Linked DNA regions of Homo sapiens: region 2 is linked to region 1. The links come from fine-mapping of genetic effects on gene expression. Tissue or cell type: nasal epithelium. Region 1 holds a variant in brackets; the other region holds the start of a gene. All regions are shown on one strand. Distances are between the middles of the regions. Region 1 overlaps EGLN3-AS1 (EGLN3 antisense RNA 1). Region 2 holds the start of EGLN3 (egl-9 family hypoxia inducible factor 3).

Region 1 (9,639 bases):
AGGTTACTTTCACAGGTTCTGGATGGACATAAATCATGGGGGAGCACTATTCAACGCTGTACAGGAGTGATGATACTTCCTTCTTCGTATATTTCTATTTCATCCAAGTTTCTTTTTGCAACCTATATGTATTATTTCTATACCAGCAAAAACGCACATGAAAAATGCAATCTCCACCACCAGTAAAATTTGTTCTCCTTTGAAAAATACAACAAACTGCATTTGTTGAAGGGGTTAGTGCTGTCCTGGAACATGCAGGTAAGGTTACTCGTGCCAGTCATGGTGACTTTGCTGGGAGCCTCCCTATACTCCCAGCCAAACCGTGTTGAAAGGACAGGGAGGAGTGTTGGGTTGCAGGTGCCTGGGGAAGTGTCTGGACATCTCTGCTCAGGCCAGGGCCAGGGATGTGGGAGTGTTCTGTCCTGCTCTGCGGTAGGCTCCTGGCTTCCTTGATATGGGGCTCACCCGGAGAGATTGCATAGACCCTCTGTGGCAGCACCCCTTCCAGAACCAATACAGGAGGCAACTCAGAAGAGCATGGCTGTGATAACTGAAGCCACATGCAGCCTGGCAGGATAAACACTGCCTGGGAATCAGATGCTATTTTCCTGGCCTCTCTCAGGTACTGGGGCCCAGTGGGGAGGTGATTTCTCTCACGACAGACACACCCCAGGCTGTCCTCTATTAGTCACAGCACATGCTTAACTCTGTTTGGTTATGTTCCCCTGACGTTCTGCACGTCCCACCATCCAGCAGTGTGTGTTTACCCCTCCCCACAGCTAGTTGGACTAAACAACATCTCTCGTGCAACACGTTCTAAAGGAGCAGCTGGGAATCAGGTTTAAATCTTGGATTTTCAGCATAACTGAGTTAAAAATCCCTGAGACATCTTTTGTCTATGGGTGCCAGGGAGAGAAAGCAAACAAGAGAGAAAGAAGGAATTCTTAGTGTGTTTGACTTAAAAGCTCGGACGGCTTCTTTCAGAAGGCACTGGTGTGTCAGGCTAATTTTTTAAATGTAAGAGAATCCTGTTTGGGGCTTTCAGTGGGTAGATTTAGCTATTAAGAAACAAAAACACCACTGGTTTTTTTTAAGTGGGGCAGGGTGGGCTTCTCCAAACAACAGTTCCTAGTCAAACTCTTGTAGAATGTCAATTTCAAGCTCAGTCCCACCTCACTGAGAGACACAGGCTTTCATTCTTTTCCTACACAGCGATTTAACCCTTTACTAGGGTAAAGGATAGTTATAGGATAAGAAAAAAAAAATCTCCTTTTTAAAACAGGATCCATCTGTTATCAAAAGATCCCACTTCCTGATGGACACCTAACCACCATTTACTGGGGGATCCCTGGGGAGGCCACTGTACTAAGTGCTTTGCATATATTATCTATTCCGTTCCCCCAGCACCACTGTTATCCCCATTTCACAGAAGAGGAAACAGAGTCAGAGAAACTGAGTGATTTGCCCTAAATTGTAGTCATTGGCTACTCGAGCCTAGGTCTGAGCAACTACAAAGCCTGGAATCTTGACCAATTCATTGAGCTGCTCCAAAAGAGGACAACACCTGTGAAAGGGTCCTGCACAGAGGCAGAGAATAGTAGACATTCATAGATATAAGGTGGATATGGTTTCCATTTCCACCTTTACCATTTACTTGCTGCGTTGAATTCAATGACTCAGTTAATTTTCAGAATTGTAGGTGACCCACTTGTAGAGCATGGATGGTTCCCTGTCCTCAAGGGTTCTACTATCATCTGGTGTTTCCCCCTCAGGCACCAACCAGAACGCCATATTTTAGGGAGGGTAAGGATTGAAAGAAGAACCTGCAAAGCATGGTCGCCAGCAGCATCATGCTCAGGACAGCCCTGGTCTGGAAACCCTGGCCAGCCATGGCATTCCAGAGGCACCCAGCCCGCCCCAGGGTGGGGTTAGAGCAGAGGGGTCTTGGGGAGCTTGCTCCATTCTCTGTTGTGACCGAAGATTGTGGGTGTACAAGCGTAGCCTCACCCGAGACATGCTCTCCAGGCCCATCCCTTTTACACCTTTAGCATAGCACTTGACCTGCAAGGTTGTAATTATTTTTAATTTGAATATTCAGAAAAGTACAAATGAAAAAATAATGATTACTCATATTCCAGCAACCCACAGTTAGCCAGTGTTGACATATTTGCTTCTAGTTTTATTTTATATCTATTCCTTAAAATAAAAAACTGCATGATATATAAGCACATTGTTCTTTGAAACAATTATTACAATATGAGAATAAGCTAAATTCCTATGACTACCATTTCAAATCTGAATTCCTCCCCTTCCATTCAAAGACAGCTTTAAGTTTGGTGTGTATTTTTCCAGCATATATATATATATATATATATATATATATATATATATATATATATGGGATTTTTTGTGTGTATGTACATTTTCTTTCTATAAATGGCATCATGCTGCATGTATCATTTTGCAACTTGCTGTTTTTCATTCAATATACTTTTGAGATTTTGATACACATAGATGCAGCTGATCCCTTTTAATAGCTCTAATAGTACTCCACTGTATGAACATACCACATTTATAGATAAGTGCATTTGAATTTTCCATTTTTTCCTATTATGAACTATGCTAAAATAGACATCACTCATACTCAGGACCACCACACTGCACAGTTCCAGAAAGCTCCATTCACTTCTACGAACGTGTCTTCTGGAGTTGTACAGCATACAGCCTGCTCTGCTGTGCTTGGCAGCCCCTGCCTGTATCTCCTCCATTTATTCTATTAACAAGATTTATTCGGTGCCTACTGAATTCCAGTGCTCTGCTTGTATTAATGTATTTAGACCTCTGAAATGTCCTAAAAAGTAAGTCGTTTTCACCATTTTTATTTTCCAAAACAAGAAGGTGAGGACAGATGGGGGTACTCACTTGGCTAAGATCACACGGTCTGTAAATTGCAGAGCCAGCATCAGAACCTGCACAGCCTGGTTCCCAAGTCTGGGTGCTGAACCGTCATACTAAGTCTTCCTCATGTTTCACTGTCTACTTAGTTAATATCTCCCACTCATCTGTAACCCTGAGAGCAGGGACCACGGGGAGCCACTTATTTTGCGTCACTGGTGCCCAAATAGTGCCTGATCTCCATGACAGGCTCAATAACGTTCTGTCAGTCACTTTACTCATGACTGCAAGCTCCTTTCCTAATCAACGTTTCCTCTCCCCCTTCCCCATGTATCTCTTTCCCTTCATAAGCACCCACCTCGTCTCCCTCTCCACGACATTCCAACCCCTGAGCAAGGCTTTGAAAAAGTGACATAGGCACATCACAGATGTGCCGTTGGCTCTAATTTGTGAAAGAACATTTTACCGAGGGGCAAAGGAGGACTTGGAATTTTTTCCTGCCCCCAGGAGGCCCAGACTTGCAACCCTGTAGGTCTAGAACTTAAGCGGAGGTCCTGCTATGTTCACACATTTAGTAGAGAATGACTTCTAATTCCGTCATTCAGCTGTCAGGCACGTAGGCCGCTTCCTTTTATAAAGCTGGTTGTCGTAACTAAACAGGTGCAGATTTGAGGAAATGCAGACCGACTGGAATGATAAGTCCCACTGCATGTGAGATTAGGTGGATAGAGGACTCGAGTCCCACCCGCCCTTTACTGTCTTTAGTCTCCCCAGTCCGCCCTGGGCACCACCCGCCGAGGCTGGGCTCTCGCAGCTACCTCTCCATCTATCTTCATGACAGCTGCGGGGGCCGGGGGCAACTTAGTCGGGACAAACGTGAGCGAGCGAGTGTGTGGTTCAAAGAAAGGAAACGCAAGGGACAAGGAGAAGGTCGAGCTCCGGCTGAGGAAGAATCACGGGCCGGGCTCGGTCTTGCCCGTCACCCTCGCGCCCCTACTTCCGGGCGGGCAGGCACCGATGGGGACTCCGCCCAGGGAAGGCGAGCCCCACGCCCACGTGGCTTTCGAGGGGGACAACCTGGGGCGTGGGGACACTGCAGGGCACAGGGCACCCGCGAGTGGAACCACCTAGGCGCCCCCTCCCGGGGCCGGTACGTGCGGGCTGCTGGCGCTGCGCGCGGGAGCCCTCCCTCGGCCCGGGGCTGCGCTGGAACGCGCTGACTCACGCTAGCGCTACGTGAGCTGCGAGCCTGCCGGGCGGGGCTGGCTGTCCAGCCCCGGCCGCCGCCCGCCGCAGTTACCGACTACCTTCGGGGCGGCCGCGGGCGCAGGCACAGTGCGTGTGGCTCGGTGTCCGCCGCGGCGCGCCCTGGCGAGACTTCACCCCGCGCCCCGCCGCGCGCTCGCCAAGGCTGCCCGCCGG[G/A]CATTTTTGATCATTTCGATTGTCCCTCCGGCTCGAAAGCTGCAGCAGAGCTGGGATCTTGCATCCGAAGCGAGGGCACCAGCCGGTATCTGCTAGGCAGGAGCGGCCAGAGTCGCGTTAGGGCGGCCTTGGGCAGGGCGCTTCGGTTTGGCCTCTCTTTGGCTCCGGGGGAGCCTGCGGAGGCCCAGGGCCGGTCTCTGGCTCTGCACTTGATGGCCTCCTATCTAGGGGAAGGGCCAGTTAGTATCCCACCCGCTCCCTCGCCATTGTAGCTCAGTTCATCCCCAAAGACCCCGTGGAGTGGCAAGGGCAGGCATCATCCAATCCATTTGGCAGAGGACATCAAAGCTGAGGTTTAGATATTCATCTGTTGACAATGATGAGGATGTTTCATCGTAACTTTTCTATCTAGAACCTAGCTCTCAGTTTATCAGTTCTAGTGCTAACGTGGCCTGTTTTAGCGGTGTCTCCCATTCTGTGTTCTCTGGAAAGACAAGTTAAAGGGGAGAGTTTGTATTAACAGGTGTCACGTCTTCTCACTCTCGCCATATCCCTGTACCTTCTGGTAGATGTAAACGGACACAACTGTGCTTATAAAACCAATAACTCGCCAGTCTTCCTCAGGTCCATTCAAGACCATTTGAGTGGGTCCTTGGGTGCCATGGACAGAAATCTTGTGGGGACATGGATGAGGGGGGCCTCCAGCCCCTGAGGACTGTCAAGACCAGGGCCTTGGGGAAGGGCAGCCGAGCTTCACATTGTCCCCACTTAGCCACTTGTCAGGGTTGCTGTGAGGCTCCAGATGAAAATACATGGAGTTTCCTTAACTACCGTGGCCCACAGAAATGACACATGAGATTCTTTTCCTTGGTCGTAGGATACTGGGGGCGGGGTCAGTGAGAGGCACTGTCCATCTCAGAAAAATCTGTATCACTCTTGTTTGCTCATCTTGAGGAAGCCATGGAGAGCACAGTTTCTATGGAGTCAGCAGAAACAAAAATGAGATTAATTCACACGTAAATTCTGCCTTTAGATACAGAGACCTAGGTTATAGGATCTTGACTGTATACACAGTTAAGCCATTTGTAGAGTTTTCCCTATTTGGGGGTAGTTTTTGTTCTGATTTTTTTTTTCAGAGGGGATGTTTGCCAAATTCTTTCTAGATTATAAAATTAATACAAACTCTCATAAAAGTGAATACACTAAAATATAAAGAAGAAAAAAAAAATCCCGTAATACAACATTCATACACCAATAAAATGTTAGCATTTGAGGTATATTTCTTTCGAAGTATTTCATTTTGTTTTATTTTATTTTATTTTTGAGACAGGGTCTTGCTTTGTTGCCCAGGCTGGAATGCAGTGGTGTGATTACAGCTCACTGTAGCCTTGACCTCCTGGGCTCAAGTCATCCTCTCACCTCAGCCTCCAGAGTAGCTGGGACTACAGGTGCATATCATCATGCTCAGCTAACTTTTGTATTTTTTGTAGAGACAGGGTGTCTCCATGTTAGCCAGACCTGTAGCTGGGACTACAGGTGCATATCACCATGCCCAGCTCATTTTTGTATTTTTTGTAGAGACAGGGTTTCACCACGTTAGCCAGCCAGTCTCAAACTCCTGGACTCCAGCAATCTGCCTGCCTTGGCCTCCCAAAGAGCTGGGATTACAGATGTGAGCCACCATGATCAGCAACCAAGTATTTTAAAAGTTTATTTTATATAATGTCTAATATAATTGAGGCCACATTCTATGTCTTGAAAATATTATTTGCCTTGCTTAATATTATATCGTACACATTTCCCATGTCATTAAACCTTTTATAGTCAATTTATGAATGTATTATGTATTTTTTAAGCAATTCCCTTACTGTTGGAAATTTAGGTTGTCTCTGTTTTTTGGCTTAAGCAATACTCCAATGAATATATTTGTGTATAAATATTTGACCAGCTTATTATCTCCTTAACATAAGCTTCCTAAAGTGAAATTTTTAGGTTTAATAATATAAACATTTTCATGACAAGATCACATTACTTGGTGGCAATTTCCATGAAGACAGGAACTATCTCTGCCTGCTTTACTGCTGTATTACCAGTGTCCAGCATGGAGATGGTTCTTAGTGTGCATGTTTTGTTTGTTTGTTTGTTTGTTTTTTGAGACGGAGTCTCACCCTGTTGCCCAGGCTGGAGTGCAGTGGCGAGATCTCAGCTCACTTCAACCTCCGCTTCCTGCGTTCAAGAGATTTTCCTGCCTCAGCCTCCCGAGTAGCTGGGATTACAGGCTCGTACAACCATGCCTGGCCAATGTTTTTTGTATTTTTAGTAGAGATGGGATTTCACCATGTTGGCCAGGCTGGTCACAAACTCCTGATCTGAAGTGATCTGCCCGCCTGGGCCTCCCAAAGTGCTGGGATTACAGGTGTGAACCACCGTGCCCAGCCTTAATGTGCATTGTTGAATGAGTGAAGAAAACAAGGAAGAAATTTCCCTTCTTGCTTAGGAATATCAAAACTAAAGACTGTGTTTTATCCCAGCTGGTTCTAACCTGCTAAAGCTGACCATTAACTTTAAGGAACCCCCCCGGGCCCCACCCACACACAGGACCTGATTGAAAACTCTTTCCTGACCACAGACAGTGACACTTGTTTAAATGACTGACTGTCTAGAATGCTAGTTGTCAATGCTTAACTAGAATAATCATCAGGCACTTCTCTCCAGCACTTAAAAAGCAACCCCTGACATTTCCCTAACAGGGATACATTGCAAATTTCTGTTTTGGTTTGTGTTCCCTTGCCTGGTAAATTAGTAGACTCAGCTGTGATGAAACAACAACAACGACAACAAACCTCTAGGCTTATTCTTTGACAAATGAATATTGCCAAAATGAAATACATAAAAGTTGTAGCAATCTACAGTTCTACCATCAGTTTATATCTCACTGCTTTTTTGGTGCAATGTGTCTTGACCTTTGTTATTTAATGGATTAAAATGTGGGATAATTTTTTGCCTATTAAATTAGGTAGACTGACCTTTTCTTTTTTGAGACAGAGTTCTACTCTCGTTGCCCAGGCTGGAGTGCGATGGTACAATCTCGGCTCACCACAATCTCTGCCCCCTGGGTTCAAGTGATTCTCCTGCCTCAGCCTCCCAAATAGCTGGGATTACAGGCACACACCACCACACTCAGCTAATTTTGTATTTTCAGTAGAGATGGGGTTTCTCCATGTTGGTCAGGCTGGTCTCAAACTCGCGACCTCAGGTGATCCGCCCACCTCGGCCTCCCAAAGTGCTGAGATTACAGGAGTGAGCCACTGCGCCCAGCTGACTGAACTTTTAAATACAAATGTGATGATTTACATTTTTTCTTATCTATTGAGATCTTAGCGATTTTCTTATTAGTCTGTATGACCCTTTTATACACTAAGAATATTGCAGAGTAAATTCTTCATAATACTTTTAAAGTGAATCCCTGCCAGGAAGATCTTCCTGCAACACATAATTTTGATGTATTAAATTTTTGAAGCAATTGTGCATTTAAATTACTGCTGGAGGTGTTCTAAGATGGAAGGGGTAGTTTCTAGCTACTGGAAATATCTAAGTAGAGACTGTTTGATCCCTTGGGAGGGATTGAAACATATGATGACAGGTTGGACCAGTGCTCTTTCGGTTCCCTTACAACCTTGAGATTTTGTGATTCCATAACCTGTCCAAAAATAAAAGGCAATAAGGTTTTTTTTGCGGGGGGGGGGGGTGGGGTGGGGTGGTAATTTTCTTTCTATTAATACTCTGTAAGATTGACAGGCTCCTACAGAAGTCTAACAACTAAGAGAACCAAAGAATGATTTTCTGAAGCTACTGCCTTTATTCACACTTTTAAAAAGCCCAGGGTGGTTGAAGAGTGTGAATGTGCTTGGCCTTGCAGCTGTGTCCTGGCCCTTTAGAATTTGTTATCAAAACAAAACATGCATTTCCACTGGAAGTTTTTAGAACATTGATTTTGCAAACTTTTTCTAATTTCACTTTTGGTTTCTTCTGTGTAGTAAAATCTGTAAACTTATATTTTGCATATTTATTCTTTGTCAATTATCTGTTGTGTAGATTATTACGTATTTACATACACACAGCAATGCATACTTGTACACGAAAACCATGTATACACTATTTTATGGATAATTTAAGGGATTTTTTTTCAAGTGACTGCTTTCAGTTATGTGCTAACTTTGGAAACTACCACCAACATAAAAATCTGCTCTACTGAGGTATCCACCTAGATTTTTATTGTGGAAGTGCTTAATTCCTGTGTCTTGACATTTAGCATAAATGACATAGAGCTCATTTTACATCTATTGTGTAATGTGAGAGCTGTGTTCTGACAGCTCCTGTATTTCCCTTATTGGAATGTTCATTGTTCATTTGTAACTGCATATTTAATCTTTAGTCTCCTATATAGGCTACAAGTTTTGGGGGGCCATGGGGAGCAAGGGGACCTGATCCTCTGGTATCCCCAGAGTTTAGTGCTTGGCATTCTATAAAATCTCTGTTGAATTGAATTGAATGTAATAAATTACATGTAAAAACTAGATAGGAAAAAGCGCAAGAGGCTGTGGACTTAGTGTGAGGTCAGAAAGCTGGCTGAAAAACTAAGCGATCTGAGCACCTCCTAGAAGCTGGGCACTTAGCTGGCCTATCACCTGCCTTATCTTACTGAATCCTCACAACTTTGTTTTGAGAGTTTTTGTTTCTGTTTTGTTTTTATAGAAGAGGAATCCATGGTTCAGAAGGGTCAATGAACTTAGTCAACTGGTAAATGGTAGGACTGGGAGTTGCTCTGAGTTTATGGTGGCTTGAAAATCCAGGCTCTTTTCTCTTGAGTAGGATGCCTGCAGTATGTAGTCTAGTCTTGATTGGGGCAGAGTTGGGGAGGGAAGATGTGGCTTTAGGAAAGGACCTGGCTCCATTAACTTAGCTGAATTTTGTCTTTGTAATCGCTCCTCTCCACACCCCTTCCACTTCTCCATGCCCTCAGCTTTACTCCCTTCACCCCGTCAAGAGTCCAATGCTCTCATGATGCCTCCCCTCCTTACAGTGAGAGCTTCTGACCTTCTTTTCTAAACAAGCCTCAAACTCTGTCCTCCCCATCCAGCTATAGTCCTTAGTATTCTACTTCTATTTAATCTAATAAACTCTTCTGGGGAGAAAAATGGGAAATTGTTGTAATGTTTCCCATCCTTCTCATGTGCTTTTTTTTTTTTCTTTTCTTTTCTTTTTCTTTCTTTCTTTCTTTTTTTTTTTTTTTTTTTTGAGACAGAATCTTGCTCTGTCACC
Region 2 (9,639 bases), 110 kb after region 1:
TGAAAGTGTTCTAACTAGAGTTACAACAAGAAAAAGAGTACTTAAGGGCAGAAACAGTTTCATGCCAGACACTTGGCTCAAAATGATTCTCCCTCCACACCCCCATGTTACTACATTTGAATCTCTCAAATTTTGTCCTACATTGTTATTCTCTTGCAGAGTGACCTTGGGCAAGTTCCTTAGCCTCTTTATTTCTCACTTTTGTCATCTTCATAATGGAGAAGAAGAATAGTACCGATTTCCTGGTGGTGTTATAAGAATTAATTGAAGTAATGTTTGTAAACTTTTAGCACAGTACTAAGTGTTGCAAAAATGTTTAATGGATCAATAAATAAGGTTGCCTTTGCTCACAGTGAAGTCATGCAAAATAATGATAAACCTTCTGATGATATAGGATGGTAAAAACACACACACAAAATATTCAGATACCAGCTAGGAGGAAGAGAACCTCAGGTATGGCAGTACTTTGATGGAAAAGAAGACATGTAGACATTTTTCATCAGAAATAAAAAAGGACACGATGGAACCTTCCCATATTTCTGTTGGAAATGTAAAATGGTACACCTATTGTGGAAAACAGTTTGGTGGTTTTCCAAAAAGTTAAACATAGGCCGGGCGCAGTAGCTCATGCCTGTAATCCCAGCACTTTGAGAGGCCAAGGCGGGTGGATCACTTGAGGTCAGGAGTTTGAGACCAGTCTAGCCAACGTGGTGAAACCCCATCTCTACTAAAAATACAAAAATTAGGTGGGCATGGTGGCGGGCACCTGTAATCCCAGCTACTTGGGAGGCTGAGGCAGAAGAATCGCTTGAACGCAGGAGGCGGAGGTTGCGGTGAGCCGAGATGGTGCCATTGCACTCTAGCCTGGGTGACAAGAGCGAAACTCTGTCTCAAAACAAACAAACAAACAAACAAACAATTGGCTGGGTGTGGTGGTAGGTGCCTGTAATCCCAGTTACTTGGGAGGCTGAGGCAGGAGAATCGCTTGAATCCGGGAGGTCGAGGTTGCAGCGAGCCGAGATTGCGCCATTGCACTGTAGCCTAGGCGACAAGGGCAAAACTCCATCTCAAAAAAAAAAAAAAAAAAAAAGAAAGAGTTATAAAATTACCATATGCCCCCAAAACTGTATGCCTAGGTCTATTCTCCAAAGAATTGAAAACAGGTACTCAACATACTTATGCATGCATGTTAATAACAGCACTATTATAATAGCCAAAAAGTGGAAACAACCCAAATACTCATCAGTGGATGACTGGATAAACAAATTGTGGTATATCTACGTAGTGGAATTATCATTCAGCCATAAAAAGAAATAAAATCTTGGTAAATGGTACAAAACATCATGCTAAGTGAAAGAAGCCAGTCACAAAAGGTCACAGGTTATATGATTCCATTATTAGGAAATATCTAGAATGGGCAAATCCATAGAGAAGGCAGATTGATGGTTGCTAGGGGCTTGGGAGAGGAGGCAATGGGGAATAACTGCTTAATAGGCACAGTTTTCTTTTGGGGTGGTGAAAATGTTTTGGAACTAGAGAGAGGTGGTGGTTTCATAACATCGCGAATGTAGTAAATGCCACTGAATTGTTCATTATAAAATCGTAAATTTTATGTTTTGTGAATTTTACCTCGTTAAAGTCAAAATGCATACATATATAAATAGGACAGTGTTACAGTTGAGAAGGCAGAAGCATCCCATGCTTCCTCTTCCACTCAACTGAGACTCTTTGGTTTCGTCATCTGTAGGAAAATGAAGTTGAACTAGGTGACCACTAATATCTCTTCCAGTTCAAATTCAAAGGTAAGAAAACTCAACATTTTTCTTTCTCCCCTACTCCTCCACATGCTTGAAAATGACTGCATCTATACTGCAGATGCACACTGGAAGACAATGTTGCTGTAATTAAATTACAGGGAAATTAATTTGCTTTAGTTATTATGGAAAGGTATTTTAATATTCATTATTATGACACAAATTAGTGGACAAATAACTAAAGCAAATGCACTTTAACAATTAGCTTGGGTTTTCCCTCTCTGATGCTCAGACCCACAGCCTGTGCCTGGCTCCAGCCTGTCTGTGTTCCTCCGTGCAATCACACACTCTGATTTTTGCCAGTCACAGTATCTCTGATTCCTCTGCCAAATGCAGTGCTGGCAGCCCTAAGCTGATCGGGAGGTCCTTGATTGATTAATGAGTGCCCTTGCCAAGCAGGGATGGTGCCAAGGGATTGAATTCCTTTCTAAACTGCCCATGCTTTACAACCAACATAATCTAGAACAGTTGTCACTAGGACTCACTTAGACTATTGCTCTAGTTATAACGAGTTACAATTTTACTGTGAAATTATTGAAATATTATTTGAACAGTAAACTAAATTTACCCACTCCTGGGATTTGAAGTCTTGGGTCAACATGTTCATTCTGGAAGGTGGTTGTATAATTTTCTGTATTTTACTGACCACCACCCCTCTACCAGTGATTGCAGGTTTCCATTCCTTTGTAAATTCCCTCCTTATCGTTCCTAGGAATAAGGTGTATCTACAAAAAGCCTCCAGCTAGAAACATTTCAGCTAGTTACTAAGGATTATCTGTCACCTTCCCCCTTTTTGATTCTGTCCCTCTTCAGGGATATCTACTTCTGAGATTTACACAGTCCCCAAAGCTGCAAAATGCACGACCCAATGCCAACCAGGGTCTACATTCAGGCTGTCTTAGACCAGGTTTCTCCTGGTCACCCCATTATCCATAGTGCCCCTGGAGGAGATCACTGCAGGAGGCAAAGCAGTTCCTTCTGTGCAGGGTTCAAGCAGAAGTAGAGAGGAGGGCTTTCCTCCTTTTTGGTACTGCACTCCATTTCACTCCTTGCTGCAATTTTTTTTTTTTAAGGCTAAATTTCACTTTTGTCACCCAGGCAAGAGTGCAGTGGCATAATCTCAGCTCACTGCAACCTCCACCTGCTGGGTTCAAGTGATTCTCTTGCCTCAGCCTCCCGAGTAGCTGGGATTACAGATGCCTGCCACCATGTGTGGCTAATTTTTGTATTTTTAGTTGAGGCGGGGTTTCACCACGTTGGCCAGGCTGGTCTCAAACTCCTGACCTCAGGTGATCTGCCCACCTCGGCCTCCCAAAGTGCTGGGATTACAGGTGTGAGCCACTGTGCCTGGCCCTTTGCTGCAATTTAACAGTCCTCCAGTTTTCACTTTATGTCTCTGGCTCCCACCACTCAAATGTCCACTGCTCAGATAGACAAAGCTGAGAGACAAATGCCCTGTAGAACTCCTAAGTTCTCCCTCCACTGGCCTCTAAGCTTTTGTGCTGGGTCAGGCTAATTTGCTTGACTCTTTTCCAGTGACTTCTCTTTGGGGAGGCTCCCCAGCCCCTTTTGCAAATAGATCCTTCCAGATAAGCCCAGACATACTGAATCCCAAGTGGAGGCTGCTATGGCTCAGGGTCAGACATTGAGTTCCCAGTAACTATTTATTAGCCATTCACTATGTGCTAAACACTGGGGTTCCAAGGATGATGGTCTCCTCTCATCATGGAGCTGCCTTGGGAATTTAGACAAGAGCTCTTTGAGCAGTGATGGCCTTTACCCCAAGGAGGGGTACCTCCTGCTCAAAGGTAATACCAAAGGTGCCAACTAATCACTGACTTGGCAGAGAACCTCTCTCAATATAACTAGAAGTTTCATCAAAGTTTCTTAAGCACTCCACCATTGACTGCTCTCCTTCACCATCCCCCAGGTTCTTACTCAACCACGTGCCTCTGTCTGCTTCTTTCCAACTTGTAGCAGCACCTTTCCTCTTCTATTCTTTGTTCTTGTCCTGGATGTCATTCCCTTTCTCCCCTCAGAGGCAGAGAGGAGAGGGCTGCTGGAGGAAGAAGAAAAGTGAAAAAGCTGTAGAAATTTGCTTCCACAATAAACAATACCCGAAAAACCTGTACATTCTTTTCTTCAACTTAAATGAAGAACCCAAGTGTGCACTCATATGAAGTAAAAAAGGTGCAAATAGGCCGGGCACGGTGGCTCACGCCTGTAATCCGAGCACTTTGGGAGGGCGAGGCGGGCGGATCACCTGAGGTCGGGAGTTCGAGACCAGTCTGACCAATGTGGAGAAACCTCACCTCTACTAAAAATACAAAATTAGCCAGGCATGGTGGCGGGCGCCTGTAATCCCAGCTACTTGGGAGCCTGAGGCAGGAGAATTGCTTGAACCTGGGATGCGGAGGTTGTGGTGAGCAGAGATCACACCACTGCACTCCAGCCCAGGCAACAAGAGCAAAACTCCGTCTCAGAATAAATAAATAAAAAAAATACAGTTCCTTTTTTTTTTTTTTTAAAGAAGTACAAATAGCTTTGCATGCAATTTATGAATTTTTTCCTGATTCTGATCGCTGGTGTTCAGTAGGAAAGGGAATCAAAACTCCATAAAGCAAATCAGCTTATCTGTAGATAACCAAAGTCTTCTCAGTGGTGTCTGTCCCTCTTGTGAAAGTACAGCTGCTTGTGGGAAAAGTGAGAGACCTAGAATACAGTGTATCTTTTGGGGGACATACCTCTGACTGTTACAGAAGCATGTGATTAATTTGGAAGGTAGAATTTCGGAACATCATATTTTAATAGGAAGCTTGAAAGGTAAGTAGAGGAAAACATCAAGCAAAGCAAAATACACCATTTGCAGAGTTCAATCAGATATGACTCAGCATTTCTTCATTGTGCTCATCCCCAGCTCCTCAAGCACATAGTGCCTTGCACACAGTAGGGGCTGAGGGAAATATTCGTTAATGCATTAATTTTAGTTAAAACTAGATACCTCCTAATCTCTCAGTGGCTTGAACTGGGTCAAACAGCAGAGGAATGGGGTAAATAAGGAAAGACACCCGGTAAAGGTAGAACAAGACCACTGCTTAATAAATATATTCGTTTTTGGGGTTATTATTTTGCTCAAAAGTCTATGAGGTGACCAACCCAGAATGTGGCAGTTAATTCTATTTACATTTTCAGTGTGGGATCCAGGTTTTCAAGTTTGTTATGTGATTTTATGCAAAACAATATGCAAATCCAGCGCATTCTAAAAATTCAGTCTGCTTTCCAGCCGCTCCCCTGGTCACAAACAACTAAGGTTGGCGCCGGGCTCTCTGGGATCCTTCGCGGAGGGGCAGAGCAGGCGGGGGTGACTGGCAGCGGGGCGGGGGAAAGGGCGGTCCCGGAGGCGGTCCCGGGGCGGAGCCCGTGACGCGCGGAGTCGGCCGGCTTAAGGGCCGGACCTCAGCGTCTCCCGGAGTCTGGCCGCAGTCGCGGCAGTGGTGGCTTCCCATCCCCAAAAGGCGCCCTCCGACTCCTTGCGCCGCACTGCTCGCCGGGCCAGTCCGGAAACGGGTCGTGGAGCTCCGCACCACTCCCGCTGGTTCCCGAAGGCAGATCCCTTCTCCCGAGAGTTGCGAGAAACTTTCCCTTGTCCCCGACGCTGCAGCGGCTCGGGTACCGTGGCAGCCGCAGGTTTCTGAACCCCGGGCCACGCTCCCCGCGCCTCGGCTTCGCGCTCGTGTAGATCGTTCCCTCTCTGGTTGCACGCTGGGGATCCCGGACCTCGATTCTGCGGGCGAGATGCCCCTGGGACACATCATGAGGCTGGACCTGGAGAAAATTGCCCTGGAGTACATCGTGCCCTGTCTGCACGAGGTGGGCTTCTGCTACCTGGACAACTTCCTGGGCGAGGTGGTGGGCGACTGCGTCCTGGAGCGCGTCAAGCAGCTGCACTGCACCGGGGCCCTGCGGGACGGCCAGCTGGCGGGGCCGCGCGCCGGCGTCTCCAAGCGACACCTGCGGGGCGACCAGATCACGTGGATCGGGGGCAACGAGGAGGGCTGCGAGGCCATCAGCTTCCTCCTGTCCCTCATCGACAGGCTGGTCCTCTACTGCGGGAGCCGGCTGGGCAAATACTACGTCAAGGAGAGGTCTAAGGTAGGACGCGCTCGGCGCCCTGCCGCAGCTGCTCCCGCGGGGACGGGAGGCACTCGGAGTCCGTTGTATGTCGACTTCCCAGGGCCGTAAGCGAACTTTGTTTTTTAACCAAGAAGTCAGCCTGGTTTGTCTCTACTCGCTGCTTCCCCCCACCCCTCGCCCCAGCTCCTCTGAGCGAAAGTCAACGTTAAGGGGCTCAGGTGAACCATGATGATGACCTTCTGTTGACTTTGAAATATTGGCTCTTGTGGGTGACAAAAGCCAGACAAGCTGTGGCTGTGGTCCGATTTTAAGACGAGGTTCTCAAAGATCCAAAGGAGGGAAAGGGTATTGGAAACACTGTGTATCATCTGAGACACACGTGTCCTCATGATCTTAAATGCCTACTTTAAAGCCACCTAATACTGCCCTTCATTGTGGTCAGAAGAGATTTCTACAAAAGCACTCAGAATTCTGGAGGCAGTTGTGATTTTGCCATGTGGCAGTTGGTTTGTGGAGTTGGGCAGGTGTGAAAGGGTAAAACTCCACTTCTGAATGCTGCTTCTGCCCCCTGGGACCCAGCACATTGTTAGACCATCTTCTTGACTGAAAATTCTCTCCTGATGCTGAGCCCTGCACCACCACCTTCCTTTTCCTAACTATGAATTGATGGCAAAGTCCACTCAAAACAACCAGTTAAGTGCTCACGAGAGAGTAGTCAAGCACCTCCAGAAAGAAACCGGGTTTTTGTTCACATAGCAGGAAGTGACTCCCTGGGTGGTAATTTATCTTGGAAACACAGGTAGATTGGCAGAAAAACGGGAACATGTAGGTACCGCGATGTTGGTGCATGTCCATTACTTTGGGATAGGCTTTCTCAGTCTTTCCTCAAATGATAGTTGAGCCAGTTTTCCAGTGGCAATTCTGAGTGACTTGCGCTTGTCTTATGGTGTGGTCAAGGGACGTTCAGAACTACGGAAAACTTTTACTGAAACAGCGAAGCAGAGTATACCGGCATGAGAGGGAAGATGAACACTCACCTATGTACCACTCTTTGACAATAAATATAGTATTTCTCAAATCAGTCTCAAGACTGATCCTGTCTCAGAACAGACCATTGTTCTCTCATTTCTCTAATACGCTGAGAGGAACACTCTGAATAAAGGCTAAGTGGTGAGGATTGGAAACGTGTGGGAGTGAAGGGGTGGAGGTGGATGAGTGCAGTGGGGAGTCACAGTTTGCCGTACAACTTCCAAGCCAAGAGGCCATGAATAGAATATCTGAAAGCATCGTTATTAATGCACCCAAGTAAAGTAAATCTTAGAAGATACTGCTTTCTAAATTTTACTTTGGGGAAAAAAATTCCGCGTGAGCTGAACTCTGTAGGAGATTGATGCTAAAGTGTTTCTTTATTCTTCTTCCATCATGTTGGTGGTGGATTAGTCACTCGTCTTTGACTAGTTTGATTTTTGCATTAAATGACCTTGCTGTCTTCTGTGGTGGAGGTGTGTCGGGGAGGGGAAGGGTCAGCCTCAGTGTTGCTGAGATGCTGGTAGTTTCTACCTGGAAGAGCAGACGGCTTCTTATTGGGTTTTTAAATGTTTCTTGTAAATTTAGGTGTTAGGAGTTTTTCTTCATCATTCTAGGAGCAGAATTTGCTCTGAGGGAGGTCAGGATTAATTGGTATGGAAAGAGGCCACTAACATTGAAAGTTAAATATTTTTATTTAGCTTTGACTTAATGGATAGGGATAGGGTTTCAGACTAGAATTTAACTCAAATGGAAGGAAAAACACTGTGTAAGTTAGGGTAAGGGAAAGAAAGATCCTGTAGATATGATTCATCAATTTTAGGTTATCTTTTGGGTGGAATGAAAAACTTTCCAGGTGACCCTGTCAGAAGGTGATCGTGAATTGAAAATAAAATTTATCCTGTCCCACCCCCAGATTTCCAGGTTTACTTTGGCTGGTTTGTCACAAAGCTCCCTGCCCTTTAGATAAATCACCTTTCGATTGGAATATTCCCTGGCCAATTAGAACCAAATGCAAACCAGGCTTGAGCAAACAACTAGTGTAGTTAAATTTTTTTTAAGTGTGCTTTGCTTGTATACAGAAGTCTCCTTAGTGATGTCTTGTGGTCTTGGGTTTCTTGTTTGAAGTTCATTATTAAAGTCATGGTAGAAACACTTTCCATTTCTACATGATTTTTATTGGTTTCACATTAATTTATCCTTCTTTTTCTTCACTCACTTTTTATCCCTCAGCTGAGCTCCTCATTTTGTGCTGCTTTCCAGAGCAGTGATAGAGACCCAGTTTACCGGTTCATCCTTCACCCGTGTTTTCAAGAAAAACTAAAGTTTTAAATTTATTTATTATTATTATTTTTTTGAGATGGAGTCTTGCTCTGTCGCCAGGCTGTAGCGGCTCACTGCAATCTCTGCCTCCTGGGTTCAAGTGATTCTCCTGCCTCAGCCTGCTGCATAGCTGGGACCACAGGCACGCCACCCTGCCCAGCTAATTTTTGTATTTTTAGTAGAGACGGGGTTTCACCATGTTGGCCGGGCTGGTCTCGATCTCTTGACCTCATGATCCACCCGCCTCGGCCTCCCAAAGTTCTGGGATTACAGGCTTGAGCCACTGTGCCCGGCCCTTAAATTTATTTTTAAGTTTTAATTAAGGAAATTTTCAAACATACATAAACATAAGAGGCTAATATAATGAGCTCCCATCACCCAATTTCAACAATTGCCAATATGTACATTTGTTTTAGACCAATTTTTTTTAGCTACTTTAAATTTCTTGAGGTTATGCTTATTCATGCACTTACCCAAATTTCATTTCTTTTTTTGTTCTTTGCTAGACTTGGAAAGATCATTGAATAATATTGCCCTTTATCTCAATGAAACAATAGCAAAGATATTGGGAGTAAAACAGAAAGATACACTGGACCTAAAATTGAAATTGTGGAAGAATATAGAAAGAAATATTAGATGGTTCTGCTTCCTGCCAAGAAAGTTGTTAATGGTCAGAATTTGTCTACCTCATCTTTGCTGGAGAAAAATCCAAGGGTGTTGAAGACCCCTTGGGAAGTGGTTCCTGTAATGTACAGCTGTATGGCCCCCCCTAACTTCAAGCATGATCATTGCTTTCAGGCTAGCAAAGGATTTATCCGCTCGCTACTCCCTTTTGGAGATTTTAGACCATATCCAAGATAAATATTGGTCATAATTTGCTCCTTTTTCTTTGGCTGCCTAGATCTTGAAAATGGCTGTTTTCCAGAGAATGTATAATTTTTAGAACCAAAAGTCCCTCTGCTTCAAACAGCTCACTGTAGACTCACTAGTTAGTGACTCTAATAAGAAGAACTACCTTTTATTGAGCAGTTTGTATTGTCTGGCACTGTGCTATGCACTTTACAAATACTATCTTGCTTAATCTTCAGAAACACAGTCTTAAACATATTGAGTGATTAAATACTGTGCCCAAAGTTTCAAAGTCAGTGGTAAGAAACAGTTTAAATGGGGGCTGGGAGCTCAGGCTCAGTGTTAACTAACTTCGTGGCTTTAGGCAAGTTGCTTGGTTTACACCAGGTGCAAAATGAAAGGAAATAATGCCGTAAAGCTGTTGGAGGAAGAAGCATTAAATAAGATGATGTTTATGAAATGTTTAGCAGAATTCCGAGCCTTCATCAGTGTT

What was found.
Region 2: EGLN3 starts here. The variant in region 1 is fine-mapped to the expression of EGLN3 in nasal epithelium (TOPMed, PIP above 0.99).

Annotation. Positions count from the first base shown.
Region 1 is chr14:34,054,786-34,064,424 of GRCh38, reverse strand. EGLN3-AS1 (EGLN3 antisense RNA 1) reads right to left here. Exons shown (of 3, transcript NR_184209.1): 3 at 2,063-5,293. The region is part of intron 5 of LOC102724945 (a long non-coding RNA gene); the gene reads left to right. Among named protein-coding and RNA genes, the nearest start is that of EGLN3-AS1, 20 kb to the right of the region's middle. RefSeq lists a silencer at 3,849-4,208 and enhancers at 4,107-4,608, 9,092-9,141. The variant G/A (reference allele first, on the strand shown) is at 4,318.
Region 2 is chr14:33,946,723-33,956,361 of GRCh38, reverse strand. It overlaps EGLN3 (egl-9 family hypoxia inducible factor 3), which reads left to right and starts at 5,288. Exons shown (of 5, transcript NM_022073.4): 1 at 5,288-5,966. The coding sequence starts at 5,610. RefSeq lists a silencer at 5,151-5,230 and an enhancer at 5,351-5,520.